Homo sapiens: one gene and its partner. The protein of the gene in region 1 purifies or fractionates together with the protein of each later gene. This does not show direct contact. Each region holds a gene or a part of one and is shown in the gene's direction. Other genes may lie near its edges.

Region 1 (16,501 bases):
TTTCATCTTTTCAACTGCATGAAAGATATGGGCCCAGAGGATACTCTGATCTTTCATTTCAAATATGATATGTGGATTTTTTTTTGTTATTGTTCAGCTTAAAAGCATAAATGTGACTGTATTGAAATGTGGAGGAATGTAATTTTTAGGGGGTGCTGCCGAGAAGTGCCTTTGCTCTGCTTGCTATAATGAACTGTGTGGGTGCATGCACCTGTCTTCCAAGTCTAAAACCACTTCCCCTCGTGCGAACTGGGCAATGCCATTTGATAGTGTGTGCGATTTATGGAGTCCCTAGAACCCGAGAGTTAGAACACACCAGTGCGTACTTCACCTAAGCCTTTTTCTTGGTGAGAGGGCTCTGGCCCCGGCCGTTTACTCTCGATTATACCAAATGAGCTGTCTTTGTCATGGAATGCACATGCCTGTATAACATTGCATTGTCATGGGGCTGGGAGTGCCCCTGGGTAATAATTTGGTTGTATGGTAAGGGTCTCACCAAGGAGCAAATGGTGTTTTTCTGTTGCTTTCCTGCAGTAGTACTTCTGCTTACATGCAGTGACAGAAAGTAACAAGTTTAGGATAGTCCAACAGACGAGCTTTATTTCTAGCAAGGGTTTTGAAGTATTAGTTTTCCAAGAGAGTCATGAGCAGGTTTTGTACTTGTGTAGAAATTTGTGTGGTTTGTAAGCCAGGATATTGAACCAGATGTGGCCACATGTGATTCTCATTTCTTACGCTGAGGCTGAGTGTGAGAAGAAAATGATCAACTGGCTAATCCCACTGGTTTTGCAGGACCTTCCATTGAGCTATAGGCTACTGTCACTGAAGAGGTTTTCATATGAAAATGTACAAGCCTTGCAGAAAAATCCTGCCCTAGTAAGATTCAGAGAGGGCCAAGGAATTGAGAATATTCTTTTAAAGTTCTGGAAAATACGGCTATTGAGAAGGAAACATAGAAAATCATATTAGTTTTTAAAAAAGTTAAAGGTTTTCTTCTCATGACATTATTTTGTCATTTGAATTGCACTTGCTGGTGGTGGGGTATTTGTGACTCAGTTACATTGCCTTCAGTGGGAGGAGAGGTTATAGGTACATCTAGATTGCCCAGTGGAACCCAGGCATCTCTTTTAGAGCACATTTGCCTTGGCCTTGGCCTTGGCTAGGAGGCTCCTGCCCATCTGCTGCTGCGGTCAGTGTTTGAGCAGGCTGCTCCTCCCCTTCCATAACTCACTGTCTGTCCAGTGCATTTCGCTTCTGTTTAGGCTCTTTGTTTTTGATTCAAGTTTTAAAGTGCAAATGGACTACCCCCAGCCACCAACTGTTTCTCTCTCTGGGCCTCTGGTTCTGTTTTGAAAGGCTGGCAGAGGCCTCGGCTCAACGGCTCCCTCTCGTGGAGAAGAAGAACTTGCCAGTGAATCTGAGGTTGAACTGAGGACAGCGTCATAATCTTGAACGACTAAAACATTTTTGCTTAGTTAACCAAAAACATCAGAGTCATTTCTCATCTTCTGCTCTGCCTTGGAAGTGCATGTTTCTCCTTTTCATCTGTCATCATACTGAGTTGATTTAAATATTGTGTGTGTCGGTGGTGGGGTGGAGAAAAACCCATAAGGATGGAGGGGAGAGATTTTATATTCTTAAAGCAAGCACACAGAGTGTGGATTGGGTACAGTTTTTAAGATGGAATTTCTGTTATTAAGAACAAAGTCAGGTAGGAACGTTTGATGTCCTGGACTTTCATATCTCTCACCTTATATCCCTTCTGCAAGAAGAATGAGGTATTGTTGCCAGTACTCATCTGGCCGAACGTAACTTGAAAATGCTCTCAACCTTGCCTGTTAAATTGAAACCATTCTCTTATGACTAGGAGGGATTGCTTTAATATCTCATGGCCGTGTGCCTGGGATCACCTGAGATACAGGTGACGGATGGCTGTGGGCCAAGGAGCACACGCTGCAGACACCTCACTTTCTGCAGAGCTGGGTTGGGGGCTGGGGGCAATGGGCTGAGAAGCCAGAAATCCACAACAGAGCTGAGAGAAGGAGTAACTTCAAGCACTTATGTATAAAGCTGCTCAGCTGAAATGTATTGTCATTCAATGGAGGGTCCTGCTGTAGCCCACGTCGGCGCTAATTCTTCAGTGAGTTCAGATGACTTCCTGTGTGTGCTCTTCTGTGGAATCCCTCAGGACGTGCAGCGGTGGCCTTCCTTGTAGTGCACTGGCTGCATAACTGGGGCTGTGTGGTTTTAATTGATACAGAGGTGGGTTGAGGGAGACCTTCGGTAACAAGGTAAGACAATGCCTTCCTCCATTCTTCTGTTTCCTTTTGTACTGATTAAGTGTTGGCTCCTTATAGACAAGTCCAGGCCAGGAAAAGGGGTGTCCTTTTGTTAGATTGGTGGGTCCCAGGTTTCCCCACAATGGTGGTGCTGGCTGGGTTGTTGGTTCTGTTTTATTTCTCCCTTTTAGGACACATGGAGCAGCTTAAGGGGCTTCCTATGTTAGCTTTTCAGCTCCCCTGTGGCCTCTCGTGGTGGGCATAGAACACGGACCCTCTGGGTTTCGAGGAGGAAGATGGCCAGTGACACTTGCCTTTTTCAGTCTTCGTAATTGTTTGAACTTCGCTGGTCTGTGTTGTGGGTGAGATCCATCTAGTCTTTGAGCTTGTTATATGGGCATGCGTGTGTGATATCTGGGTGGATACTGTTGAAGATAACTCCTATAATAAGAAGGAAAATATTGCAACTCATTTCTCTCATAAAGCAAGTTATTTGAATGTATACCTTGCCAATAATTCAGTATTTAGGTTTTCAGAAAGATGTAAACAAGGTGTTCCTTTTGCCATTGAAGATAGTGATATATAGAATTCAGCTGTGTTGAAAATTTACTTCCCTGTAGCATTGCTAGCCATGAACTCAGGTGCCCCCGAGAAGCCAGAATGGATGGAACCAAAGGCCTTACACTCTTATTTGAGATAGAATATGAGAGACATAGCACTCTGGTATTTGGACAGCGGTGTTAGGGAAGGGTAGGGTCCACGGATTTGTGGGAACACTGAGACATCTGAGGCTTTTAAACACTGATTCCCTTTCTTGATCCTCACCAATTAGCACAGAATCTAGAGGGAAGGGATTTACATTATTTTGAAGCTCCCCTAAGGGTTTTAGGGGTGCCAGGTTTGGAAAACACTGAACTAAACCTCAGCAAGTAGTGGTGGCTGATGCCTGAACCTCACAGGAGTTGGGTTATGTCCGGCACCATCTGGAGTTTGCCATTTTGATTAGCGATATACGAAGCCGCACTGTGTCCGTCTCCTTAAGGAGACTCTTGTGCTGGGAGTAGGGCTGAAACAGATTGCACCCCTACAGGTTAAAAGGAGATTGAGCCAACTGTAGAGGTGTTGTCTTTTGCTGTCTGAACCTGAGATAGAGCCCTTCCCCAAGGTCCTGGATTCCCTGAGGCCCATTCCCCCACCCCCACCCAGCCCCACCAGCCTTTGTTGCTGGAAATAAAGATCAGCCCCAGCTGGAGTTTACTGTTTGCTTTTGTTTTTCTAAATGTTTTGTCTTGTTTTGGTTTTAGTGGAAGCATTTGAAAGAACAATTAAAACTAAGAGATTTGCATTCCTCACTATACCTCCTCTTGCAGATTAACAGTACTTACCACGGAATATTTCTGTTTGTCCTTACCCCTGGTTTTATAAATCTGTTTTAAATTTATCATTGCCAGGTGCTTTTTTTCCTCTCCAAAAGGGTTTCGCATTATTTATTCCAGACCGTCTGTCAGTCCCACTTTTTTTATGGGTGACTCATGGTTTAAGAGCCAGAGTGTGATTCCTGGGTCTTCGCTTCTGCCTCTTCATGGGGCCTGAGATCTGGCTCTAGGAATGAGGCCTCCATGGGCCTGGCTCCTAAGAGATGATGTCCTACCAAGAATTTGTGGCTTTGATTGGACTGCACTTAATTGGTGGCATATAGAGAAATACAGGTCTCAGTGGCTTCTTTCCTTTTTGATTTTTATAAACTTCACTGATACTTCATTCAGTGGTTCCAAGCGCGGTCCCCAGGTCAGCACACAGCATCACCTGGGACTTGGTTAGAAATGCACATTCTCAGTCCCATCCCAGACCCTCTGACTTGGACACTCTGCCGGTAGGGCCCAGTGATGTGTTTACATCAGCCCTCTAGGGGATGCTGAGAGCCACTGGTTTGGATGTTTTTGGCAAGTCTTTTTTTTTTTTTTTTTTTTGAGACAAGAGTCTCGCCCAGGCTGGAGTGCAGTGGCATGATCTCGGTTCACTGCAAACTCCACCTCCTGGGTTCACGCCGTTCTTCTGCCTCAGCCTCCCAAGTAGCTGGGACTACAGGCGCACACCGCCACACCCAGCTAATTTTTTGTATTTTTAGTAGAGACGGGGTTTCACCGTGTTAGCCAGTATGGTGTCAATCTCCTGACCTTGTGATCCACCCGCCTCGGCCTCCCAAAGTGCTGGGATTACAGGCGCCTTTGGGAAGTTTCATTCCATGCCCCACCCCCACTTAAGGGGGGTCCTGGGCCAGGCCTAGGTTTAGTACAAAGGTCACTAAGACTCATTACCCGCCATCTGGGGACCTTCGTCCCCATGTGACAGCAGCCTGCACAGCCTTGTGGTGGCACTGGTGTTTCAGTACCCTCTGGGCCATCACTGCATGTGGCCAGCTCTCCTGACCAGGAAGTGCAGGCTCCCCCGACCCTGGCACCTTCCTCTCGGGCTGTTGGGGAGAAGAGGGGGCTAGTATTCTGTGTTTCTCAGTAATTTTGTGATTTTTAGGCTTCTTCCTTTGGAGATGGTGGTGGTTATAAAACCCTGAAGTCCCTGACTTTAACCTCATATCATAGACGAAAAGTAATGCCCAAGGTGTTAAGTGATGGGGCAGTGGCCACATTGTGACGCAGAGAAGACATCTTCTCGAAACCAGCATGTCTGGCAGCAGCCCATTGGGGTCCCTTCATTATTCTTGTTTGAAGCTTGTGCATTTCTAGTGTCTGCCATTGTCGCTCCCCATTTTCGCTGACGTTTGTGTGTCCCAAGATTACCACGGCGTCCAAGCTGTAAGACTGTCTCTGTTTGCCCAGGTCCCATAGAACCTGATGGGAAAGTTTGTCCAGGGTGGAAGATACATGGGACAGTTTGTAAACGGTGGGAAAATATAGGAAGCGCGTGTGCAGACGAGGGTTGGCATGTGTTGCTTCAACAGTGAGGTCGGGGCATCCCTCTTCCATCCAGCCTGGCCCTGTCCAGGGCTCGTCTCCACAAGGAAAGCAGACAGCAGCTGCTGACAGTTTGCAGCCACACCTCTGGGCCTGGCCTGCCACCCGGAGCCAAACCACATGAGCACTGCTGTTCTTTTGCTTCCATAGTATTTTTGTTTTCCTTCTTTTTTTAGCCATAGATTTCTAAATCCTGTGGGCAGGTCATGCTGCTATGTGGAGCACAGAAATAGCAGACATGACTTTTCTTGGAACAGGGATATGTGTGTGTGTCTGTCTCCACTTCCCCCAAGGAAGCAGGATCTTGCTGTCATCAACTCTGAGAAGCTCAGGACAGGTGATTGCATGGCACGTGGGGAGGTCTTCATTGTGAAACACCAAATTTCCTGGAAGAGCAATGGGAACGTGAAAATGCACCCAGGAAACCCCGCTAGGAAGCGCCTGGGGCAGTTTGCATACTTCTGTGACGAAGGATAGGTATATAGTGGATTCTGAAAGTGGACATCGCTGCTTAATTCTTGGATGTGTATTTTGCTTCTCTTTGCTGGTATTTCCACATCTCTTCTTATCACACTACAGGCTGCTGGCTCTGTTCATCCCCAGCATCCAGGGTCCTTTCTCACGGGTGGGCCGGTCATTTTAGTGGCAGGTACTAATTCTGCGTTTTTTTCCACCTCTGCTTCTGCTGCTCCACAGGTTTCTAAGGTAAACGGAGTCACTCGAATGTCATCTCTGGGTGCAGGTGTAACCAGTGCCAAAAAGATGCGCGAGGTCAGACCTTCACCATCCAAAACTGTGAAGTACACTGCCACGGTGACGAAGGGGGCTGTCACATACACCAAAGCCAAGAGAGAACTGGTCAAGGACACCAAACCCAATCACCACAAGCCCAGTTCCGCTGTCAACCACACAATCTCAGGGAAAACTGAAAGTAGCAATGCAAAAACCCGCAAACAGGTGCTATCCCTCGGGGGGGCGTCCAAGTCCACTGGGCCCGCCGTCAATGGCCTCAAGGTCAGTGGCAGGTTGAACCCAAAGTCATGCACTAAGGAGGTGGGGGGGCGGCAGCTGCGGGAGGGCCTGCAGCTGCGGGAGGGGCTGCGGAACTCCAAGAGGAGACTGGAAGAGGCACACCAGGCGGAGAAGCCGCAGTCGCCCCCCAAGAAGATGAAAGGGGCGGCTGGCCCCGCCGAAGGCCCTGGCAAGAAGGCCCCGGCCGAGAGAGGTCTGCTGAACGGACACGTGAAGAAGGAAGTGCCGGAGCGCAGTCTGGAGAGGAATCGGCCGAAGCGGGCCACGGCCGGGAAGAGCACGCCAGGCAGACAAGCACATGGCAAGGCGGACAGCGCCTCCTGTGAAAATCGTTCTACCTCGCAACCGGAGTCCGTGCACAAGCCGCAGGACTCGGGCAAGGCCGAGAAGGGCGGCGGCAAGGCCGGGTGGGCGGCCATGGACGAGATCCCCGTCCTCAGGCCCTCCGCCAAGGAGTTCCACGATCCGCTCATCTACATCGAGTCGGTCCGCGCTCAGGTGGAGAAGTTCGGGATGTGCAGGGTGATCCCCCCTCCGGACTGGCGGCCCGAGTGCAAGCTCAACGATGAGATGCGGTTTGTCACGCAGATTCAGCACATCCACAAGCTGGGCCGGCGCTGGGGCCCCAACGTGCAGCGGCTGGCCTGCATCAAGAAGCACCTCAAATCTCAGGGCATCACCATGGACGAGCTCCCGCTCATAGGTAGGTCTGGGCGGGGGGTCAGGGGGTGGTGCCTGCCCTCCTGCCCCCAGATCCCTGCAGTTCCCTCACAGTCTTCACGTTCTCTTCCCTTGCGAAAGCTCCAGTTCCGCTTCCCTGTCTCGGGAGTAGTGGGCTTCTCAGCTCATTCCCCCTGCAGCCCTTCTTCCCAGGTCCTGGGCGTTGGTGGCAGGATAAGAATGGTATTGAGCTGCCGGGCGCGGTGGCTCACGCTTGTAATCCCAGCACTTTGGGAGGCTGAGGCGGGCAGATCATGAGGTCAGGAGATCGAGATCACGGTGAAACCCCGTCTCTACTAAAAATACAAAAAAATTAGCCGGGCGTGGTGGCGGGGGCCTGTAGTCCCAGCTACTTGGAGAGGCTGAGGCAGGAGAATGGCGTGAACCCAGGAGGCGGAGCTTGCAGTGAGCCGAGATCACACCACTGCACTCCAGCCTGGGTGACAGAGTGAGATTCCGTCTCAAAAAAAAAAAAAAAGTATTGAGCTTGGATCTGGGGTGAGCCCCCACTCTGGGTCTGGGCCCCTTGCTTCCCCTGGGCTGTCACCTCCTACCCACAACTGCTGGAGTTAAAGCAGGGGCCGGGGGGCCAGTGGGGAGCGCTGCCCCTCTGGATTCCACACTGGATTATAGAGGCTGGAAGCCCAAGGTCTAGGGGCCAGCAGGGTTGGTTTCTCCCGAAACCAACAAGACCTCCCTCCTTGGCTTGTGCATGGCTGTTTTCTCCCTGTGTCCTCACAGGGTCCTACCTCTATGTGTGTCTGTGTCTTCATCTCCTCTCCTTAGAAGGACATTGGATTAGGGCCCATCCTACTGACCTCTTTCTAACATAATTACCCTTTTGAAGACCCTGTCTCCAAATTCATTCATGTCCTGAGGTACTGGAGGTCAGGGCTTCAACATATGAATTTGGAGGGATCACCATGCAGCCCATAGCCCTCTAGGGTCCTGTAGGCCATTTTTTATCCTGCTCAGCCTTGTCTCTTCTTCCTCTGAGCTTCAGTTTCTCTGGCGATTTTGTCAAGGCCACAGGTCAAGGGATCTGTTGACCTTTTTTCTGAGACCAGGTTTTTTCTGAGACCTTTTTTCTGAGCTCTGGCTGGGGCTGTTGGAAACTTGTCACAGTGGATCCTTAGTGAATGCATATCTGGGCTGTCATGCAGACCCTTGCTCCTCAGGGTGGGTTGCAGGCAGATCCTCCTCTTGGGTTCCCCTGTAGCCCTCCTTCCCTGTCATCCTCTCTTCAGTCCTGCCACTGGGGACACAGGGTGAGGATGAACTTGCCTTGTTAAGGCTAAGTGGATTCTGTGGAGTGAGGTGCATCCAGGTAAGGTTGCAACCCCATCAGTCTAGACCCATGGGAGGAAACAGGCCACACCTCCATTTTGGAGATCCTCAATTTTCAAAGGCATGGAGACGTGTAGCCATCATTTAAGTGTCAGGGATTTGGCAGCAAGATAGGCTTCCAGGCAGGATGGAGGTTTCGTGGTTCCCCTCAGCAGGTGCCTGCCAGGACTGATGCCTGAGTGACAGTCACCTTAACTTGCAAGAGTTCTTGGTTTGTGCTCTGCTGTTGGGAATAGCACGTGATAGGAAGCAGTGCAGGGAGCAGGCTCTGCACACGCGTGCACCCACGCCCGCTGACCACGCCCCATGACTACTTGGGACACAGGATGACTGAGTCAGTGATGGAACCGCACCAAGTCCTCCTGCCTTTGGAGACCTGCAGACAGGAGGGAAACATTCCAAGTTTCCCTCCTCTGCTAGGTGGATGATGGAGCCTCGAGAGCACACTTGACATCGTAGTGACAGCGCCTTTTGTTTAGAGTAGGTTTTTCTTTACCCTCGACTCCCTTACCCTGGGACAAAAGCCATACTGTGCCTCCCTGTGGTGTGCTTATGCTTGTTGCCGTCACCCAGAAGTCTAAGGCGTCTGACATTCTGTCCCAGGGGTACTGACCTGTCTGTGACCCAGCAAGGCCTCAGGGCTGGGGTCTGAGCTCAGCCATCTGACAGTGGTAGAAACTTAATAACTTTGAAGTAATAGCCTAAAATCCACCCCAGCAGATGTGCCTTCTGCCTCTGTGTAGGTTCACTTCCACCGCAGGTCCCAGGGAGCCGCCGTGCCGCTGGCGGGAGTTGGGTGGGGAAGGGGCTCGGCCACGTAGCAGCCTCAAGGCCCTGAGTGGGAGTGATCGCAGCGGATGAGGATTCCATGAAGAATTCTTGCAAGCGCTGTGTGATTTTCAGGTGCTCTTGCGTTATAATCTACTTAGAGTGAAATATGAAAGTGTGGATTTCCTCCCTTCTGTGACCTGTGTTCTGAGTCACTCGGACGGTGGAGGACTTGTTTTGGTTGGGGGACTCGTTTTGGTGCCTACCTCTGTAAGTTGAGACAGTACCCACCTGCCCTCGGAGGAAGAACTCCCGATTGTCAGCCAGAGCCACCGTGAGTCCCACCTGTGACTCTGGGAGTCTGTGAGACCTGGAGTTTGTTGTGGAGTCTCAGTTCTTAGGTCCCTCCTGTCGAGGCTGGGGACAGTTCCCTCATGGATGTTACCCCAACTCCCCTGTTCTCCACAACCACATCAGTCCACTGTCCTGCCATTTAGTGTGAGTGGAATTCAGGCTGCTGTGTCCCCATCCCTGGTCTTGCTGGTGTGCTGGGAACTCGCTCTCTGTGTGTGCTGTGTCTGCCGAGGTGGTTCAGACGCTTCACCTAGTGGGTCCTGTCATGCTTGGTATGTGCAGCGACCCTGCCTGGACTGGATCCGTGCACACTTTACCTTTTATTACTTAAAAACAATATATCCCCACACTCTAAAGATTTAAAACGTTGTTAATTTGTACTTTGTTTAGTATTTTGTTGATGGTTATTTTGGAAAATCTCCCCTACCCCCCTTCCTTTATTTGGCCCGAGGGAGGTTGCTTTCTCCATTCCCATCTAGAAAAGCCACTGGGCGCGCGTTAAAACCTGCCCAGGTTTGATGTGCATTTGCGCTGCTCTGTGGCCTGATCAGGAGGGGCACTGAGCACCAGCTTATGCACTGAGAAGCAGCCCGCTGTCTGGATGGGCGAGGGACGAGGCATAGATGTGCTGCCCTGTGTCCTCACGCAGGTGTTGCTCTTTGCTCTGGAAATCCAGCAGGATGGAAAATAGACTTCCTTTGTGTGAGTGAGTGGGTGGATGGGTGAAGTTGAGTGAGTGAGTGGGTGGGCATTGGGAATTATAGAAGGGGAATTGGGAGTTGGTAACAAGCATGTGTCAAAGCTATTCTAGGTGACGCTGGGCCGTGGGTGCAGCCAGGACCCCTACCCACTCCTCACCAGGGAGCTAGTCTTCTCATGACACCCGCCTCCATGTGACAACACATGTACCAGTACATGGTACACTGGGATGTTCCTCCCTGTATGTCTGTCTGGCCAGCTCGCATCCTTTTCCAGCCAAGCCCCAGCTTAAATGCTGCCTCCTCAGACGCTCCCCACCTAAAATGGTAGTCCCTCGTTCCACCTGCTCTTCGTAGCAAGTGGTCATGACCCATCATTTTGTAACGCCCTTCTCTCTGTGGACCGGGAGTCTGCTGTTCACCACTCTCACCCCAGAGCCTGTCAGAGTCCTGGCTCATAGTAGGAGTTCAAGAAGTACAGGTTGAATGAGGAACATCTTGTTCGTGTCTCTTTCACTAACTGTCCCGTTTTTTTCCCCTTCGCTGTCCCAGGGGGCTGTGAGCTCGACCTGGCCTGCTTTTTCCGGCTGATTAATGAGATGGGCGGCATGCAGCAAGTGACTGACCTCAAAAAATGGAACAAACTAGCAGACATGCTGCGCATCCCCAGAACTGCCCAGGACCGGCTGGCCAAGCTGCAGGAGGCCTACTGCCAGTACCTACTCTCCTACGACTCCCTGTCCCCAGAGGAGCACCGGCGGCTGGAGAAGGAGGTGCTGATGGAGAAGGAGATCCTGGAGAAGCGCAAGGGGCCGCTGGAAGGCCACACAGAGAACGACCACCACAAGTTCCACCCTCTGCCCCGCTTCGAGCCCAAGAATGGGCTCATCCACGGCGTGGCCCCCAGGAACGGCTTCCGCAGCAAGCTCAAGGAGGTGGGCCAGGCCCAGTTGAAGACTGGCCGGCGGCGACTCTTCGCTCAGGAAAAAGAAGTGGTCAAGGAAGAGGAGGAGGACAAAGGCGTCCTCAATGACTTCCACAAGTGCATCTATAAGGTAGGGGCCTCCGCAGAGCAGCCACTCCCAGCTGCAGGAGTGCGGGAGGAATGAGAGAGGAAGTGGAGCGTGCTATGCACTGGACGGTGTGTTCTCTGATTCCCTGGGGTGATGAGGGGGCGGGCCACTGTGCTGGGTGATAGCGCTGTATTAGTCCTCTCGTGTTGCTGAAATACTACAGACTGGGGAATTCATAATAAACAGAAATGTACTGGCTCCTGGTTGTGGAGCCTGGGAAGTCCAATATCGAGGAACCTAGTGAGGGCCTTGTGGGTGCGTTGATGGGGCAGCAGGAGACCCAGTGAGGGAGGGGAAGTCCACTCCACGAAGATACCACGAGTCCATTCCGCCTGCCTAGGGCCTCGGGTTTCCTTTTCATTAACTGGCTTGCGTGTGCGTGTTGCATGCACGTGCACACATCTCCATATGCCAGGGATAAGTAACTGGGCTGCATGCTTCGTTTCCCCTGCTTCTCCAGTTCCGTTTCATCCTGGTGCTCGACAGCTGCCCAGATCCAGCTGAACTTCTCACTGGCTGGACCGTCAGTGGACTCTGTGCGCTTGTTTTCTCTGTTTTCTATCCGCTCACCTCACTGCCAGCCCAGCGTTGCCAGGTCCTCTCTGTGGAGAGCTATCCCTGATAAAGCCATCAAAATGAATCTCACCATTCACACGCTGTGGAGGGAAGAGCTGGGGAGAAACCAGCAAACTGAAACATGCAGCGTTTCCCTGTCTCCGCCAGGTCTCCCGGCAGCACACTCATCCTGAGGAGACTCGCCCCTCCAAGAAGCAGGGGAGGCAGAGTCCGTGGCTCTCCTCTTGGCAGCTCTCCCAGCTGTCCTGGCTCTGAAGCAAGGCTTGGGGTTTCCTCCCTTCTCCAGCCTGCCAGTGGGTAGCGGGGCACCCGGGGCCCAGCTGGCCGAGCTCAGCTAAGTTGAAGTCTCTGCTGAGTTTCCCGGCACAGACTTGTCCTCTGTGGTCCCAGTTCTGGATTCACTGGAAGGGAAGCGTTCTCTGCTCCAGCCCTCGTGAGCCTGGTGGGAGTGTGTGGCTAGTGGGTTTCGGCAGCATTGGGAATTGGCTGTTGGTTATCACTAAACACCACCATACCCTCAGGTGCCCACGGCTGCCTGACTGCAGGCTCTGGCCTGGCCTTGTAGTTGAGGCAATGCGGGCTTCTGATACCATCACACATCTTAGAAATACGGAGGAAGGGTTGACTTGACTCCTGGCGTTGCTGCTTCACTTTAAGTCCAGGCCCTGCAGACCCGCCTCAGGCTGCATCTCATGTCCTTGCACACTTCTCTGGAAAGAGGTACCCAGTTTTTCTGGCCTGAGACCCTGAGAGGGTTTGGCTCCCTTTTATCTGAGTCTGCTCTCCCATTGCCCAAGGCTGCCTGGTGGGGATGCGGTGTGGGGGTTGCTGGATGCAGCCTGCCAAGTGTGACCCAGAGACTGTAAGCTCTGAGGAACTTTATTTGGTGTTTCCTGAATGTTTTACTGAGAAGCCTTTGTCAAGTAAAGCCACTCAGTGAATCCTGTGACTGAATAGCCAACTGGTGAAATGAGAAACTGTCAACGTTTTTACTTTTTACTGAAGGAGGCCAATTCTGTGAGCGTATGTTTGATTCAAATAAGAGGTTTGGATTTGTTTAAATCCACCCCGTCAAGGGTATTTCTAGATTTCATCACGGAAATATAGTGGAGCTCTGCGTGGTGGCCATGGCGAAGCCCCCAGCAGCCGTGTGCCCACGGGTAGGGACCGTGAGCACGCAACTCTCTGTGGCACCGGTGTCCTGGCTGCTGACTTTGGTCTGCTGGTGTCATCCTCACCTCCACTCATTGCACTCTGCCTTGGTGCAGAATTCAGTCCCTCCTTTTTTATATTTACAAGAAACAGACTATCAGGAGCGGCTTGGAATTTGCATGGAAGTACGTTCCTGTAGTTAGAACCCCATCTAGTTCCTTTGCTGCAGGAGAGAAAGGCACAAGCCAATGTCTCCATGCCGACTACGACTGTGGACCCAATGGCAGAAAGCATCTGCTGCTCCCTGTTGTGGCCCTATCACTTCTAGGGGGACGCTGCGGTGTCCAGTGCTCCGCAGGGAAGCCTTCCCTGACCACCCTCCCCCACTCTACATGACACCTGGCACCTCCTCCCATCCCATATTTGTGTGTTTGAGGCCTGTGTCTTCCCCAGACTGAATGGAAGCTCCTCGAGGTTTTGTGTGTTTCATGCACTGCTCTGTCTCCAGCCCCTAGGATTTGACCTAGTACACCATAGGTGCTCAGGAGATATTTCTGGACTCAAGCAACAAATGTGCCCGGTCAAGTAAGAAAGAAATAGCAAGGGTCTTAGATGGATTCCCTCTGAAAAACGCACCACATTTCGTGTGGTAGGTAAAAGAAGGTGCTGACTCCGGATTCCCAAACTGACTCAGCTGTTTTATCAAAGCAAGCAAATCATTCTGGAAGTTATTGGGAACAGGGCAACAGAGGGGCATCGAAGAAGAGGCGCAGAGGGGACAGCAGGTGGTTCTGTGGAGAGAAGGCGACCAGGTCGCAACCTCAGTGAAGGCTGCTGCCCTGGCAGGTGTTAATATGGCAAGGACTCTCAGGGTGTAGATGTCGCACCAGTTTCTGTCTCTCCAGCTTCTCTCCTGTGGGATCCCTGGTCACGAGTTCCATCAGGTCATAGCTGCTGATAGCTTCTCCGCTGGCCCGCAGCAGCCTTTGTCAGCTGAGGGATTCTGCCTCCAGCACAAGCTGCTTTTTCAGCAGAGCCTTGGAGGGGCCTTCCGCGCTTCTGCTGTGCGTCCGCTCAGGGCCTCTGGGCGGCAGCCTCTGTTCCTGGCAGAACAATTTGGCCCTCATGGGGTTGATCCTTGGTGGAGTCTTCCCACTCCTCTTGGCACTGCGGGTTCTTAGAGAATATATTTCTTCCTTCTCTGCCTGTCATTAACTCAGAATACAAGGTGGCCCACAGCCGCAGGGACGCCAAGGGGCAGCGGCCCATGACAGGTGTCTGGCCTCATTTGCAGTAGGGTTCAGCTTTGCTTCTGAAGCTTTACTGTTTTTTGTTTTGTTTCAGGGAAGGTCTGTTTCTCTAACAACTTTTTATCGAACAGCGAGGAATATCATGAGCATGTGTTTCAGCAAGGAGCCTGCCCCAGCCGAAATCGAGGTGAGAGAAGGGGCCCCTCACGCTGCCTCTCATGGTGTGGGAACCCCTCGGCGAGCTGGAGGACATCCTGTCCTGCCCTGACCCCTGCAGCTCGGTGAACGGAAAGGACTCAGATGGGGCTGAGTTCGTCCTCTGTGTTGAGCGTGCACCAGGGCAGCCAAATGTTTTAACTTAGGTTGATCTAAACTTGTTCACAAGCCAAAAACACTATAATGAAGGTGGGGAGCTGCCGAGTGCAGGGGACGGGTTCTGGGCACGTCCCCTGCTCCCCGTCACTGTCTCCTCCTGCTTGCTCACCCGGCTGTTTCTCACCCCATCCTCTGTGTGTCTGTTATGCAAGAGAATGTTTGGAATCCCTTGAAACCACAGTTGTGCTTTTTCTTCTCTTCTATTTTTTATTTAATGGGATTGGCAGATTGCCATTTTTGTGCTTCTGCCAACTCTCTTCTTTGAGTTAGTATGAGGTTGGAAAGACAGTGAGCACTTCTGTGCCCAGACCAATTAGGGGGAGTTTTTGTGTGCGGCGCTGCAGGACAGAGACCGGATCTGTTTATTTACCTCCCCTCGGCCAGTGCCCAGCTGAGTCCGTGTGAACTTCCAGCTGCTGACGTCGGTGGGCTCTCAGCAGCGCTTGGTCGTGGAAAGGGAAAGAAACCAAACCCGGACTGCTGGTTCAGGGCAGCTGCCGGCCGGGGAACAGGAGGTATTTGCTGACCACAGCCTCATCTTTTAGTGTGTGACAGGCTTTTGCTGTGTTTTTTTTTTTTTTTTTTCCCCTTAATGCCACCTGTTTCAAATAAAATCCAAGGTCGGTTTGCCCCGTGTATACATGCTGACCACTGGGGGTTCAGGTATCTTGTTTTGCCCAGGTTTTAGACCTGTGACCTTCAAACCTGCTCAAACCAGGACAGCTGGTCACCCTCCCTGGGTGGCGTTTGGTGCCCCACCTCCTGATAGCAATTGTCAGAGCTTAGGATGTCCAGCCCTGTGGCCCACCCCTCCCTTCCTAGTGTGGGGAATAGAGGTTTACCTTTCACGCCATTTTCATCGTCTTAGGACCTAGGTCTCTGCTTACGTGCAGGGGCTGCCTACACTGTGTACCCTGGGTGCGGCTGTTGAATGCCACGCAGTGGCCTGACACCCGGCCTGTGGTCATGATTACCGTGCTGCAGCCGCCACTGCCTCACCCACCACCAGCCACGATGTCAGCTGAACCGTGGTCTAGGACACGTGTGGCTTCCGCAGCTGCTTCCAGAGCACGCGTTGCGTTTGTGGTAGAGATGTCAGGCGGAGGACACTTGGCTTTCTGGGGCTGAGCGTTGGACCTGGGAAGAGGCCTTTATTGCCAAACAACACGTGTCCTGTGGGCATCTCCCCAGAGGTGCAGAAGTTTATTATCCATGATGCGCAAGAAAACTTAGCTCATTTTACAGCCTCTTATTCAGGAATTAATTCCCTCTGAAAGTCTGGATTTTGCTCTAGCAGTTGTGTAAATATTTAAACACAAAGGGGAGATTTGCTAGAATTTAAACTTCAGGCCTGGATTGCCTAGCTTCTTGTGCTCTGTATTCCAAAAAAGGCTGGTGGACAGCCCCTGGAGTTGGCCACCACCTGGGAGCAGTCCCTTGCTTCCCTTCCCATGTCTTTACAGGCGCACCAGACGCTGGTTGCCCTCAGTTTCAGCAAATACGCAGCAGGCTTGGGCACTCAGGGAGTCTGTTGAGGGAATCCAGTCATTTAATGTGGAATTCGTTCTTGATTTGTGGAGCTTGACTCCGCCAGGTCGGCCCCCTCTTTGTGGAAGTCACACAGCATTGAGGAAAGTGGTTTTGGTGTTGCTAGTAGCGCTTTGTGGAGCTTAACTGGACCCTATGATGCTGGGGGCTTATGAGTTAGGCTTCTTCCCTAAATGTGGTTCCAGCTTTACCAAGGCTTGTGAGACGAGGGAAGAGGACTTAGTGCTTCTGGAGTGATCACTGAGAACAAAGTGGAAGGTGACTGCGTGGGGAGGCTTGTCTCAAGGGAGCCTGGGCACCGCTGCTTGCCTGTAGTCAAAGCATGTTCTGACCCATTCTTTGCCCCCATATTTGTTT
Region 2 (16,501 bases), on another chromosome or scaffold:
TAATTTTTTCCTGGAGGTTTGACTGTGAATGGAAGGGAAAAAATGAGGAGGTGGTGGGAAGGGGGCATAAGGAATCAAGGGTAACTATAATTAGGTTAGGTCTCATTTGAGACACAGCACACCAGAAATATTAGGAGAAGCAGGGCATAAACACTAGGAGATGGAAAAATAAAAAAATGTTTGATACCTTATGACCTAAGGATGTGCTATGCAGCAGGAGTAGTACAGTGGAGAGTAAGACAGAGACAGACCTTGCCATCCTGAAAGAAGGGGATAATTTATTGAAATAATAGCAAAGCATATGAAACTGGGAATGTTTGCAATTTTTATTTTTGTACAGTTTCTACTTTGGAATTCTAGGTCTTAACGCAGACCTGCCATGGCATTCTACTGAGGTCATTTTTCACCCATGATTGATTAATTGTTCAGGCTTTGGCTATTTTTTTTTTTTAACTGAAGGGATGCAAAATCCCTCAAGTGAACACTGAACTTAAAGCCTTTTTTTTTTTTTTTTGAGACAGACTTTTGCTTTTGTTGCCCAGGCTGGAGTGCAATGGTGCGATCTTAGCTCACTGCAACCTCCACCTCCTGGGTTCAAGACATTTTCCTGCCTCAGCCTGCCAGGTAGCTGGGATGACAGGCATACGCCACCACACCAGGCTAATTTTGTATTTTTAGTAGAGACGGGTTTTTTCTCCATGTTGGTCAGGCTGGTCTTGAACTCCCAGCCTCAGGTGATCTGCCCACCTCGGCCTCCCAAAGTGTTGGGATTACAGGCGTGAGCCACCGCATCCTGCCCCTTAAAGCTTTTTTCAAAGTTGATTGCTAATAGAGTTATTCCCATACTGTGAAGCCGTTAAATTGTTTCAAAATCTGGAGAAAGAGGATTCTTACCCTCTCCTTGAGCATCCCTGATGATAATTCATTGTGATTCTTCCTGCATTTTTACTTCTGTTCTCTTGCACTGATCTTGTCAAACATTTAAACTTTTTAACCCCTCTAATTATACTACCAAAAGTGCCTTCTCCTCACAGCTGACTATGGCACAGAAAAAACAATGTTAGATAAAATTGCTTTGTGCCTTAGCATGAATCAAGGCAGCGGCATCAAACTGTACTTGTATTCTTCATTGTGTACTAACGGTAAAAAATATAAACACACACACGTACCCCCAAACCTTATTTCACTTAAGAATGTTTTTTGTTTGTTTGTTTGTTTTTGAGATGTAGTTTTGCTCTGTTGCCTAGGCTGGAGTGCAGTGGTGTAATCTTGGCTCATTGCAACGTCCGCCTCCCAGGTTCAAGCGGTTCTCCTGCCTCAGCCTCCCGAGTAGCTGGGATTACAGGCACGCGCCACCATGCCTGGCTAATTTTGTATTTTTAGTAGAGATGGGGGGTTTTGCTATGTTGGCCAGGCTTGTCTTGAACTCCTGGCCTCAAATGATCCACCTGCCTCGGCCTTCCAAAATGCTGGAATTACAGGCATGAGCCACCGTGCTGGCCAGGTTTTTAATATGTGTGATAAAATAGAAATGGCATAAGGCACTTGTGCCATTGTTTGAGTTGCCAGCTGAACTAGCAGCTTTTTCATGGAACACCATTTTTACTTGAAACAGCCACTTAGTTCTGTATAAGGCAGGTATTTTCTTGAAGTGACAATCTACGTTTTATATTGACCTTAATTACCATTTTTTTTTTCGTTTGTTCTTGTGAATTCAAGTTAGCATCTTGTGTCTGTCCTTCCTTCCATTTTTCTCTTTTCTTTTCTTCTTTTCTTTTGACAGGTTCTCTCTCTGTTGCTCAGGCTGGAGTGCAGTGGCACAATCACAGCTCACTGCAGTCTCGACCTCCTGGCCTCATATAGTCCTCCCACCCCAGACTCCTGAGTAGCTGGGACCACAGGCACGTGCCACAATGCCCGGCTAATTTTTATTTTTTAATTTTTTTAGAGACATTCTCCCTTTGTTGCCCAGGCTACTCTTGAATTCGGGGTCCTCCTGCCTCAGCCTCCCAAAGTGCTGGGATTACAGGCGTCAGCCATGCTGCACCTGGCCTGTGTCATTTCTTTGAAACAGTTGAAACAGTTTTGCTCCTACATACTTCCTTTATGCTATTATTGCCAAATATATTACATTTCTATATATTATGGGTCTAACAATACAATTATGTACATATTGTTTTATATACTTGCTTTGGAGGGAATATGCATTTATGCTGTCTTTTATAATTACTTTTGTTGGTATTCTTTGTGTGTGTGTGTGTGTATGTGTATGTACATGTATTTGAATTTCCTTCTGGGTTTACTTACTTTCAATCGTAGTAGTATTCATTGTAAGATGTCTCTGCTAATAACAAATTCAGTTTTTGTTTATCTGGGAGTTTGTATTTCACCTTCATTTTTGAAAGACAGTTTTGCTGGATATAAGATTCTCTGGTGACAGCACCCACTCCCTGCAGCCTGCTTACTTTGAATATGTCATCTCACTGCCTTCTGGCCTTTATTGTTTCTGATGAGAAGTCAACTGTTAATCTTATTGGGGTTTCCCTGTACGTGATATATTGTGTTTCTCTTGTTGCTTTCAAGATTTTTTTTTTTTTTTTTTTTGCCTTTCAGCATTTTTACTATGATGTGGCTGGGTGTAGATCTCTTTGCATTTATCCTACTTGGAATTTGTTGAGCTGCTTGGATGTGTAGATAATGTTTTTCAGCAAATTTGGGAAGGTACCAGTTATTTCTTTGGATATCTCTAAAATGTATTTCTTTCAAACTGAAACACTCCGTACCCATTAAACACTAACTCCCTATTCCCCATTCTTCCTAGCCGTTGGCCGCCATTCTGTTTTCCATCTCTATGACTTTGAGTGTCTAGGCACCTCATATAAGTGGAATAGTTGTCCATTTTGTCTGGCTTATTTCACTTAGCATAATGTCTTCAAGGTTCATCCGTGTTTGAGCATGTGACAGGGTTTCCCAGAATTTCTGTATTTTTAGATATTGAAGTTAGATATTCCTAATACTTAGGAACTTTTTGAAACTTTTTTCTTTAATTTCCCTGCTCATTTTATTTTTACTAAACTTTTATGCTGTTTTTAGAATTATTATCTAGTTTTACATGTCACTGTATGTTTAATTAGTGAAAAATCTAATTTGGAAAAGTGAAACCAAACACTGCTTTGTTACCTTTAAGAAAGCTGATGGTGGTATGCTTTGCTGTTTATGGAATGTCTGATACATAAGTTATAATGTAATTTCACAGTATTTAATATATATTTTTTTCCTTTAAGTACTCTTATAGTGTACTTTCCTTTTTTTTTGTTTTTTTGTTTTTTGAGACAGAGTCTTGCTCTGTTGCCCAGGCTGGAGTGCAGTGGCATGATCTCAGCTCACTGCAACCTCCGCCTCCTGGGTTCAAATGATTCTCCTGCCTCAGCCTCCCCAGTAGCTGGCATCACAGGTGTGTACCACCACGCCCGGCTAATCTTTGTATTTTTTAGTAGACACAGGGTTTCACCATGTTGGCCAGGCTGGTCTTGAACTCCTGGCCTCAGGTGATCCACCCGCCTCAGCCTCCCAAAGAGCTGGGATTACAGGCATGAGCCACCGCACCTGGCCTTATAGTGTACTATTTGTCTATAATGTAATGAAATTGCTGGTTCTCAATGTTTTTTTTTTTAAACTCTCAGTCTGCATATTTGCTCAATTCAGTGGTGATTCCCTGTAAGGAGAAGGTCATGACTGCCCTTCCTTTGAGTGTGAAGAGTGTGAATAACACCAGCTGTCCCTTGAAGTCACTGGTTAATGTGTCTTAACTGCATGTGGCATAATCAAGAGATTAAAATGTAATTCACTTTTATTCTTTACCTAAACCCAGTCATGAGATTCAAGACATTATTTGCTCATGATCATGGCCTGCATACCTCAACATAAAGCTGTTATTTTGATGGCAGCTGCCTTGAATGTGTTATCTTGGAGTGTTTGCTGAGTCTTGGCCTCACTTAGAGTAGGCAATGAATGGATATTGAGAATTGTTATCATTTTGTTTTAAACTGCTTTGTTTGGAGAGTATTTATGATTTGAGGTACTTTTTATATTTTTGTCTTAAGGTTTTTAACAAATTTAAAACTTTGATTAACATATAAAATATCCCACTGGTATAAAATAAGCTCTACAAGTAAGTCTTATGTATGGTCTTTTATTCTCTAAACAGAGACTCTACAGGGGCAGGTAATTCACTGGTCCACAAGCGGTCTCCTTTACGTCGAAACCAAAAGACCCCAACATCCTTGACCAAGCTGTCTTTACAGGATGGACATAAAGCCAAAAAGCCAGCATGTAAATTTGAAGAGGGTCAGGATGTCCTAGCTAGATGGTCAGATGGCTTGTTTTATCTTGGCACTATCAAAAAGGCAAGTTACTTTAATGTATCTTTTGCTGTTTTTGCAGTAAGCATTTAATAATCTTAAATTTAACTTCATGTTTTTAATTTTAAGAGATCACCGTTAAGTATTTCTCTGTATTGCAGATAAACATATTGAAACAGAGCTGCTTCATCATATTTGAAGACAGTTCTAAATCCTGGGTTCTCTGGAAGGACATTCAAACAGGCAGGTGCTACTATTTCTCTTGAACATGATTTAAATTAAAATTTGATTTTCTTCAACTTGTCATATTATGATGTTGTCTGTTGAATACAGTGTATTTAGATAACTCAGTATTACTTCCTAGGAGAGGTTAAAAAATCAGCATAGTCGTTATTATAGACCATAAGAAGAACAAGAATACTCTAGAGGACAGATGCATCACTAATTTATACCTGTAAGCTATGTTAAGACCCTTCTAAGAACTTTGAAGAAAAATCTTTAGTAACTAATCTCAGTAACGGTTTGGGATTCAATTCAACTGTTGCTTGCTTATATTTGTAGAAAGCAAGTGTTTATTGGGAGCATACTGTTTGTCAGATGATTTGGGAAATTAGGACATATAAAACTGATTTAGAATAATAGAAATATTCGTTAATAAGAATGGTTTAAAATTACCATTTAGTTATGGGTTTTTTATGTTTAAATGGGAAAATGAGGCTATATTTGTGTGCCAATAAAAATGAATGAAAGTATGCCTTGGTTTGGTTATAGGTATGCTTCTTGTGATGATTTCTATTATTAGAAACCATGATTGTTTCATGCTTTTAGCATCTGCTAAATATAGATGTTTTACCAGGTACCTCTTTCATGCAAAGTACTTTTAAAAATTACAATCTCTACTAAAAGCCTGAGTATTTTAGCTGTTCATTAAAGCCCTACTTTTGGTTTTCCTTTTGCTGGGTTAATAGGCCTACACTAAGACCCGTGTTTTGTGTATTCTCATAGAAAAGAGATAAATTTTCTCCCTAAAGGGTAGACACCTTGCCAAAGTATTTAACAATTGGGTTTTATATTTGAATACCAAGTTCAATTTTATGGTAGGTTTCTGCCATGTTTTAGTTCTTGACTTTACTCTTAATGTTTCTTAAAGAATAAAAAAAGTTTTGGTAAAGGAATTGGAATGTTCTAATTACCATCTGTATAGTTGGTACTCAGGGCTTAGGTGGGGAACTAAGTAGCTTTTACTCTGGTAAAATGTTTTTCTGGAGAAACTTTTTATGGTTCCTGGACTGATAAGTTTAAAGGACTAAAATTACATTTTGAATCTGAAATTGAGGAGCCAGAGAAAAGTGTGACTCATAAGATTTAAAGGGATAGGAGATCTCCAACACTACTAATATTGAGCAGATCTTACTACCCTGCACACAAAATTATTCTTTTTTCCTTATTTTGTAAACATAGGTCTCTCTGTAATAGCAGTGAAACATGTTATGCTGCTTTTTACTCCCCTTCCATTAGCTATGTGTTTCTTTCAGCTTTTGAAGATCTTTTGGAGTTTCCTGTGGATTTAATGTAATAGGTCTGTCTGTCCTTTTGTCTACTTCCTCCTTTCTACTTCTCCTCTGCTTTTAAAAGTGGTAGAAAAGAAGAAAACCAATGTTACATAGAGATAGAAAGTTGTTGTGTGAGGGGTTCTATAAGTCCTGCACTCAGTATGTCAGTTTAATGTTCTGTGGTTGTTCTTTCTTCACTGGTTCCTTTTGCTGTTCTTGGAATTACAAAGGATTGCTCCTGGTCATTTAACTCTTCTTAGCACCCTGATATTAGCACATATGAAACTTATAGTTGCTATAAAAATGAATAAATGAATCTGAAACCTGCGTTATGGCATATTTCAGTGAGGAGTGGGTTTAGTAGTTTTCTTCCCTGTAAGAAATCTGCCAATAATGTATATCAAAACTTAATAAATTATATTTGTCTAATGAGTTTCTTTTAAAAATTTTACATAAAGAAAAATATTAGTAGTCAACAGGGTGAAATATATCATGTTACAACTATTACATAAATGTAAGAGGGTTTTGAATCTTAGCATCTAATGCTGTTTTGGTTTCTGTGAAATGATATACTCTTGCATTGCTGGTGGCAGTGTAAATTTCTATTTTGGTGGTTTAGCATTTGCATTAAATGCAGAAGTTTATAATTATCTAATAGACTCCTTTCTAGCAGTTTATTCATAAGAAGTAATTCAAAAAATACTAGGTGAAAAATGTTTCCTGAAGTTTATTTTAACAACAACAAAAAATTTGGTATTTCTAAGATGAAATGGCCAAGGCTTTCTAGTCAATTGGATTTAGAGTAAAGGAGACTATAGAAGATTACTAAGCTATATAGGAAGGTTCTTGTAAACTTGATGGTAAAAAATATATACATATATGTTTGATTTCACAAGTAAAAGTTAATTCCCAGCTTTCTCAGGATTGTTTCTTGGGTCACTACCCCCTTTTCTGAGGAATTGCCTTCCCCATCATTAGTCCAGGTAGTTACAGTGAGAGTCAGGTCAGGCACCTCCCCTCGCGGGGCTGTTGTTCCATTTCCAGGGAATTGTAAATTTTCACAGAGAGTTCCCAGGCTTAATCTGGTTGCTCTCATGATCGGAACCATAAACCCAGAAGCTATGGGAGACCACCTTCAACGAAGTGTACCAAGAAGCAAACAGCTGGGCGCAGTGCCTTATGTCTGCAATCCCAGTGCTTTGGGAGGCCCAGGCAGGAGGATTGCTTGAGCCCAGGAATTTGAGACCAGCTTGGGCAACACAGGGAGATCCTGTCGCTACAAAAAAAAAAAAAAAAATAGGCATGGTGACACACACGCCTGTGGTTCCAGTTACTTGGGAGGCTGAGGTGGGAGCATTGCTTGGGCTTGGGAAGTCAAGGCTGCAGTGAGCTGTGGCTGTGCCACTGCACTCCAGCCTGGATGACACAGCAAGACCCTATCTGAGGGGAAAAATAAAAGGAAGCAAACAAAGCAGAAGAGAGAGGATGAGAGACCAGAACAAACAAATAAATAGCAGAAATACAAAAGACAGATTTCTCCCCCTCCAAAAAAAGAAAAACAGTTGGTAACCTGTATGTCCGAGAGTAGAGTAATAATGAAGTAAATTGGGTTATTTCCACTAGATGTAATACTATGCAGCTATTAGAAGTTACAATTTTGAAATGAAAAATGATTTTCATTTTCAATTTTGAGTGAAAAATGCTTTTGATAGAAGAAATATTACATAGTATTGATGAAGCATCTCGTAGTGGAGAGAACATGGATTTTGGCACATCTGGATTTGAATCCTAGTCTTGATGTTTTCTCAGGGTCTTTGGGTTAGTTACTTTGTCTGAGCCTCAGTTCTTCTCTATAAATAGTATATTTATAAGTTAGTTGTAGAATTAAACAAAATATATCAAGATCCTACACAGTGCTTGGCCCATAGCACAAAATTATAAGTTTTTATTGTTGTTATGTATATAAAGGCTGTGTATTGTGAATTTGACTCTGCTGAAACAGACAAGATGAGAATACTGGAAATGATAATGTGTTAGGGTGGTAAATTGTATTAGAAATTTTGTGTGATTTTTTTTTTTTGAGAATAAAAATGTCTCAGGAAGAAATGCTTCACTTGTTCTGCTAAAAAAAATTAATAATTTTGGGACCCCCAAATTTTGTTGAAATGATATTTTGTTAGGGTACATTATTGGATACCATATTTTCAGATTTCAGAAGCTAGAGATTAAATAATTGGTGTTCAACCTGTTTAATAAATTAGTAAGTAAAAGGAAATGCTCTGAATTGAGCGAGAAAGAGGTAGTTTACTTATCTTCCTTACTTTTTTTCTTTAATTTCATGGTATTAGTGGTGTAGGATAAGTGAATGTATGTACATGAATAGATAAGTATTCTATAAAGTAGCTCTAGTGTTCACAAACCTTCTCTATCTGCTGTCGCCCATCCCTCATCTCCACCTTCACCTTTAAGAGTGGGAATATGAGAAATGAGTAATAAGGGAAGATGCTCAAGAGCAATTTAAATTATGCCTTCTGCCAAAAAGCAGATTAAATTATGAAAGTAGGCATGTTAAGTTAAAGGTAGAAAGAACACAGAGAGCAGAGAGATACCATTCGTGTACTTTGTCTTGTGAAGCATTATGATGTACTTAGCAAACATTGCGCATATGTGCTGCTCACTGAGTCATAAAAGTGGTTTTGTTTTATGGAATTTTTTATGACTCTCTTTTTTAATGTGTTTTAAATATTTTAGGAGCCACTGGAAGTGGGGAAATGGTCTGTACAATATGTCAAGAAGAGTATTCAGAAGCTCCCAATGAAATGGTTATATGTGACAAGTGTGGCCAAGGTAACCATTGATTTCTTTTAATCTTGTTACATACTGAATGACTATGTTGAAGATTAATGACTAAAAATACTTTACATTGATAATTTGAAATTATCCTTTTTATTAATTATATTAATGTAGGAAATAATGCTAAAATGCATTCTTGAAATTGTGTTGAAAGTATTAATGAAACCGAATTTGCTTTATGCTTTTTTTGATATTAAGGATATCATCAGTTGTGTCACACACCTCATATTGATTCCAGTGTGATTGATTCAGATGAAAAATGGCTCTGTCGGCAGTGTGTTTTTGCAACAACAACAAAGGTATATTTTAAGTGTTTTGGGCTAAAGCTCTGATGGAATTTGTAAGACATTATCAACATAATGATTGTGTACACTGAAAGTTTGTTGGAATGAAATGAGCAATGAATGCTGGGTAGAAAGAGGTGCTATTTATTTGACTAATGATGCTTAAGTGACTTTTTAATGATGCTTTCACTTATTTGATGATAGTAATACGGGAATTGGTGCAGTAATTTGAAAGAAGAAAAGAAAAATAGAGATTATTATTAATCAGACAGTTTGTGATATGGTAAAAGTTTGGAAAGGAAATTTCTCCAGAAGTGTCAGAGTCGTTTTTAAAGTATAGAATTGTGTTTAAAATTTTAGCCTTCACTCTTTCACATTTTTTTCCCTCTAATGTAGAGGGGTGGTGCACTTAAGAAAGGACCAAATGCCAAAGCATTGCAAGTCATGAAGCAGACATTACCCTATAGTGTGGCAGACCTTGAATGGGATGCAGGTCATAAAACCAATGTCCAGCAGTGTTACTGCTATTGTGGAGGCCCTGGAGAGTAAGTAAATACAGTTATGTAATTCCCTTTAAGTAATTTTTATTTACTTATCTATTTTTCTTGATTATGGTGTGTGAGTGATGGTGAATTGCAACTGCATGAACACATCAGTGAAGAAAACCAGGGGGAAAATCTATTATTTTCATAAAAAAATAATTTTCATCTAGTTTTTGATCATATCCACACATTAAAATATTTGTATAAGTCTTATATTCTGGAAATTTAAAGTGAATTATAAATATTGTCATAAAATTAACTATTGAGGGAAAACATTTACTGCAGGGGCCCAGTATCAGTAGTTTCATTGGATGTCATATTTAATGTGATTGACCATTTAGAAACTGGTATATTTAATATTATAATTTAAATGGGAGAGTAAAAGACAAGTTTTTTAAGACATAAAATCAACATGGAACTTTTTCACAGATAGATTACTGCTTTCTTCTACGTATTTTCATTTCTTTCTTAAAGTGATAGGGCACAGATTGTAGTGCAGTGACATGATCATAGCTCACTGCAGCACTGAACTTCTGGGCTCAAGTTATCCTCCTGTCTCAGCCTCCGAAGTAGCTAGGACCACAGACACGTGCCACTACACCTGGCTAATTTTAAAAAGTATTTTTTTTTTTGTAAAGACAGGTTCTTGCTACCTTGGCCTCCCAAAGCTGGCTGGGTTTACAGGCCTGAGCCATGCTGGCCTGGAGTAGCATTTTTATTTTCTTCCAGAACTTTTTCTTTGCATATACAGTTTGGCCAGCTGTTTGGTGCAAGAGGCCTAGCTTTTGGCCTATCTTGGCTTTTGACATACCTTCCTAACGTTTGATTTAAATTTAGAGACTTGTGACTCTTCCTTTCATTTGAACACTTAGAGGCCATTGTAAGATTTTTTTTTTTTTTTTTTTTGAGACAGGTTCTTGCTCTGTTGCCTCGGCTGGAGTGCAGTGGCATGGTTATAGCTCACTCCAGCATTGAACTGGGCTCAAGCAATCCTCCCATCTCAGCCTCCTGAGTAGGTAGGACCACAGGCATGCGCCACCACACCCTGCTAGTTTTTTAAGTTTTTTTGTGGAAATGGAGTCTTGCTATTTGTCCACGTTGGTCTCCAACTCTTGGCCTCAAGTGATTCTCCTGCTTTGGCCTCCCAAAGTGCTGGAAATACAAGCATGATCACCACGCCTGGCCCCCACTGTAAGATTATTAATTAGCCTAATTTCAATATTGTGTCTCAGGGAATAGGAAGCTTGAGGAGAGGGAGAGGGATGGGGACTGGCTGGTTGATAGTAGTCAGAACACATGCAACATTTAGTGATTAAGTTTGCCATCTTAGGTGGGCACGGTTTTTGGTGGCCCAAAATAGTTATAGTAGTAACATCAAAGATCACTGATCACCATGAAAGATACAATATTAATAATAATGAAAAAGTTTGAAATATTATGGGAATTTCCAAAATGTGACACAGAGACATAAGGTGAGCACATGAACCTAGAAAAATAGTGCTAATAGACTGAATCAAGGTATAGCTCTGTTTGGAAATGGTGCCTTTTATTATTTTCCGATAAAGATAACCGTATCAAAGTTTGGAAATGGTGCCTTTTATTATTTTCAAATAAAGATAACCATATCAAAACCACATACTAGCTGGGTGTGGTGGTGTGTACCTGTACTGCCAGATACTTGGGAGGCTGAGGTGGGAGGATCCTTTGAACCCTGAAGTCCAGCTTGGTCAATGTAGCAATGTAGCCCTGTCTCTTAAAACAAACCCAAAATCCATGTGCTAACTGAAAAGAGAAGATATATTTCTTAGATGAAGATTCAATTTTAGCATCTTTAGCTTTCTCAAACAGATCTATAGACCATACATTGAAATATAGCTAAACCTGTCAAAAAGCCTTTATACCTGGTAGAGTCTTAGATTAGATTTATGATAATGTTAAGCAGGTTTATTAAATCGTTATATTCTTTTTATTATAGCTGACAAGAATAATAGAAACACAGTAAAGATATGAAGTGGAATGTTTATAATCTGAAAGCTGCCTAAGGCCATTTGATATTTGGGGCAAACAACAGTACCTCTGAATCTGACCTCTCCTGGGGTTTAGAGAGTTGATGTGAAAAAAAGCCCAGAGGCCTGGCATGGTGGCTCTCGCATGTGATCCCAGCATTTTGGGAGGCCGAGGACAGAGGATCACCTGGGCCCAGGAATTGGAGACCAGCTCTGGCAACACAGGGAGACCTCAGTTTTACTTAAAAAAAAAATTTGCCTAGCTTGGTGGTGCATGCCTGTGGTCCTAGCTACTTGGGAGGCTGAGGTGGGAGGGTCACTTGAACTGGGAGGTTGAGGCTGCATGAGCCATGGTCATGCTGCTGCACTCCAGCCTGGACAACATAGCAATACTTGCCTCTTTAAAAAAAAATAGCCTAGGCTTGTGTTTTAACAGAGCTCATTTGACTAGTGTAGGAGCCAGGCATTTTTGACTAGAAGTAGTAGTGTATCTTTCAAGAGCTTATAAAATTTCATGAATAAAAGAGAGAAGAGGGATGAAATAGCTGATACTATAAGCCTTTTTGGGAAAGGAAATATTTACAGTAAGTATAGTAGAAATGTGATGCTTTAATTAGAACAGTATTGTGGATTAGGCCACTTTTTTTTTTTTTTTTTTTAAAGAAATGAACCTTTCCCTTAAGACAGGAATTTTAGTGTTAACTTTTTTGTTTTTTTTAATAGCTGGTATTTGAAGATGCTACAGTGCTGCAAATGTAAGCAGTGGTTTCATGAGGCTTGTGTGCAATGCCTTCAAAAGCCAATGCTATTTGGAGACAGGTGAGAAGGGCATTTGAACTTTACTGGCTGATTTTTGTCACTTTTTAATTGTGGTTATATTTGTGATTTCAGATTTCCTAAAGATAGTTTCAACAGTGATTTGGAAAGGGGTTGTCTCAGAGGGAAAATATTAAATAATATACTTAAAATATACGTAATTTTTGTGCTTTTGGATTTTATTCCAGAATGCTTTTAAGTATTGTCAGTGATTACATTTGCTCCTATTGACCCATAGTACTCTAAAGTATTCTCATTGGTACCTTCCTTTAAAGAACCTCAAAGGGATAGTATTAGAATTGGAAAAGACCACAGGGCCTTGTTAAAGACACAACTATACTTTAGATATGAAAAATTTGTAAAAGCAGACTTAATGTACTTTCTATATTAGAAGAATGCAGGGTAGCACAGTGAGCTCCAGGAACAAAAAGCTAGACCACTAAGTTTGACATCTGAAAACCTGGTTTTAAAAATCTTGGCTTATGCCACTTAATTTTCTTTCTGACCTTAGGGAAGTTCACTTGTCTCTTTCGGGCTTATTATGTTATTTTGAGCGTTGAATTAAACTATGTATGTGGGGGCAGCCATCACAATTCCTGGCACACACAAGCGATTAGTAAACTATAAGTACGTGTGAGTCTGTGTGTGAACTTTGAAGGTCTCCAATGGTTAAAAACAAAGATCCTTTCTCTTCACATATGAACTGTTTCATTATTTGTTATTGGAAAAGAACTTCCTTCAATCACAGAAAGCATTATAATTTAAATTATATTTTGTTTTGAGTATCAGTCTTTATATCAGCTGTAGGTTATTCACTTGGTGAATATTAGCTATAATTGTTAGTTTATCTCTGATGACTCAGTATAAAACTTTTTCTTTTTTTTTTTTTTCTTAGATTTTATACGTTTATATGCTCTGTCTGCAGTTCTGGACCAGAATACCTCAAACGTCTACCATTACAGTGGTAAGTGTGGACCTTTCTGTTAAAAGAAAGAAAAGCCATTTTCTTAAACCTACAAGTTGAAACTTTCTATATACATTTACTTGGCTTAAGTAAAAATAGGTTATTTATGCTTGGCTTTATTTCTTTTATTTATCCTCATGCCTGATGTCATCTTCACTAAGTAACATCCACTTGTATTGCTAAATTAATAAGGCTGTTCAGTGTTGAATGTTATAAATGAAACTTTCAGATATCCTTTAGACCTAAATTCTTACTCATATTTCTAGTTCTTTTGAACATTCAGAATACCATACAGTAGAAGAGAGATAGGTATAACAAATATGCTAATTTCTGCTTCAATGTAGTAATTCTTGTGTGTTGGAAGTGTGATGAATTTTAGAGGTTTACTAATAAAATGCTTACAGTAAGTACTTACAAATCTTTGTTGTATTTTACATATTTTATCAACAGATAGGATTTAACCCATGAATCAAATAGTTTGGTTAAGTATGGTATATTCTGTAGCTTATATCCGGAAGTGAAAACACAAAAATCTTGATTTTAAGTTATATTTTTTTAAAGCCAGACCCTCTTTGAATGCACTTGAAGAAGTAATTTGTGGCCAGGTGCGGTGGCTTTCGCCTGTAATCCCAGCACTTTGGGAGGCCGAGGTGGGTGGATCTCCTGAGGTCTGGAGTTTAAGACCAGCCTGGCCAACACGGTGAAACCACGTTTCTACTAAAAATACAAAAAAATTTAGCCTAGCGTGGTGGTGGGCGCCTGTAATCCCAGCTACTCGGGAGGCTGAGGGAGGCTGAGGCAGGAGAATCGCTTGAACCCACGGGGCGGAAGTTGCAGTGAGCTGACGTTGTGCCATTGTACTACTCCAGCCTGGGCAATCAGCGAAACTCTGTCTCCAAGAAAAAAAAAAAAAAAAAAAAGAAGTAATTCATATATCTTCTAGTTTATAGTTGCTATTCAGAATAAGTGAATGTTTAGTCACTATTTTCTAGTTATTTTTATGTGTAGTGATTTATTGTATTGTGAATATGACTATCCACCTAAATATTTCTCTTTGCATTTTAATTACTGTTTTATAAGGAAACCGTGATTTTTTAACAGTAACCAAAAACATTGTTTTGTGTATTTGATTATTTTCGGATTCCAGGGTAGATATAGCACACCTATGCCTTTACAACCTAAGTGTTATTCATAAGAAGAAATACTTTGATTCTGAACTTGAGCTTATGACATACATTAATGAAAACTGGGATAGATTGCACCCTGGAGAGGTAGGTGGTCTGAGAACTAACTTCAGTAGCTACTTGATGTCTTTTTTGTTTTGTTTTGTTTTTCAAAAAACAACTGAGACACATGTATAAGTCAGACAACTAAAATAGAATTTTATTTTTAGTTCTGGGGACAAATAAGTTTGGTATGGATATCAGGACCAGCCTTCTCATCCTCCTGTGTGTTTGTTGCCTGTTGACTCTGGAAATTTGTAGAAGGAGGAGGTATATTATTTGATTCTTTCATTTTCTGAAGTGAAAGTCATTGTAGTTAAAGATAGAAGGGAGGGAGAAATCTTTAGTATTGGGTATCTTACTTGTAGTTCAACCTCCTTTTCTTCTAAGTTTTCTATAAACTTAGAGATATAACCAACATTCTTCCTTCCTCTCTTGTTGGTACTCCTTTATATATTTCTGACTTGTAGGAATGGTGGGATCTAATAATATTGTTAGAAAAATGAGTTGTAGAGTGAAGCTGCCTGAATAGAAAATTATCCCCTCTCATTCTGACATCTCATTTTGCTTCTCATTTTTGAAGTGTAACTACCTATGCTGGTTTACAGTCTTTTTTTAAATGAATTTAAAAGTAATGTGTGTTCATTAAAGAAAATTTTGAAACTAATGAATAGCAGAAAGAGAAAAGTAACTAGAATAAGTTTAATAGTTAGGGACCTTATTTTTAGCTTTTATTTAGAATTACTAAAGTACATATATTAACTACTTTTAGTTAAAACTAAAAAATTTGTTTTATAATATGGAATTTGATATGTATATCTTAGTCATGCTTTTTTTTAGGTAAAAATTTTGCACACTGATTTGAAGTTTAGGAAGAATTTCTTGATTTGTAGCTTTGAGACACGAAGGACATCCTATTTCATATCAAATAGGATATCAAAGGGCTTTTTGGGGGTTTATGGGATATCAGGGAGAACATAATGCATGATTTAGTTTGTAGTTTTAAAATCTAGGATATTATTGAAATTCAATTGATGAATTTTTGAATTCATCATTTGAGTTTTGAATGTTAGATATTGGATTATCATACAAATTTTTGTTAAGTTTTCTGTTAAATACTTTTTTTTTAGATGAAGTCTGAGAGAAAGTGAGTGATGTGTACATTTGATTTTTTTTTTTTTTTTTTTTTTTTTTGGAGACGGAGTCTTGCTCTGTCACCCAGGCTGGAGTGCAATGGCGTGATCTCAGCTCACCGCAACCTCCGCCTCCCAGGCTCAAGCCATTCTCCTGCCTTAGCCTCCTAAGTAGCTGGGATTACAGGCACCTGCCACCATACCCAGCTAATTTTTGTATTTTTAGTAGAGATGGAGTTTTGCCATGTTGGCCAGGCTGGTCTTGAACTCCTGACCTTAAGTGATCCGCCCACCTTGGCCTCCCAAAGTGCTGAGATTACAGGCATGAGCCACTGGGCATGGCCACATTTGATAAATTTTAATAAACTGATTAGTAATCAGAAAGTAAGGGGTAAGGCATTAGAAGTGGCTATAGTGGTTTTTATAATTATCTTAATATTTAATACTATAATACATTTGTTTAAAAATTCTTTCTAGCCATTATTCTTTTAGCACTTCATATGCAGATACATATGTATACCTGTTAGTACATTGTCTGCATTACATGATGAAATTCTGCAGTAGTAACTTGATGTAGACATTGGGTATATATAATATAAAAACTCAAGTTGTGTTTATTTCAAATGCTGTCCTTTTTAATTAAAATTTAAATTTTAGTGTTTAGATTTTATTTGAGAGGCTGGAAATATAAGAAAATGAAAATCACATTTAGTATATTTTTCAAGAAAAGAGTTCAGTTTATGAATTTTGGGTGTCCCAGCTCCAA

Evidence for each region.
Region 2: the proteins of JARID2 (region 1) and MTF2 purify together in Homo sapiens (affinity purification with mass spectrometry; 3 studies listed by BioGRID and IntAct, with this or other methods). This does not show direct contact.

The regions. Positions count from the first base shown.
Region 1 is NC_000006.12:15,490,185-15,506,685, forward strand, and holds part of JARID2 (protein Jumonji), read left to right. Parts: exon of another isoform or gene 1-5,728; intron 5,729-5,947; coding exon 5,948-6,986; intron 6,987-10,722; coding exon 10,723-11,225; intron 11,226-14,315; coding exon 14,316-14,408; intron 14,409-16,501.
Region 2 is NC_000001.11:93,106,023-93,122,523, forward strand, and holds part of MTF2 (metal-response element-binding transcription factor 2), read left to right. Parts: intron 1-4,207; coding exon 4,208-4,406; intron 4,407-4,522; coding exon 4,523-4,604; intron 4,605-8,665; coding exon 8,666-8,761; intron 8,762-8,965; coding exon 8,966-9,066; intron 9,067-9,447; coding exon 9,448-9,596; intron 9,597-12,322; coding exon 12,323-12,418; intron 12,419-13,310; coding exon 13,311-13,379; intron 13,380-14,526; coding exon 14,527-14,650; intron 14,651-16,501. UniProt on the Homo sapiens protein: Polycomb group (PcG) protein that specifically binds histone H3 trimethylated at 'Lys-36' (H3K36me3) and recruits the PRC2 complex, thus enhancing PRC2 H3K27me3 methylation activity.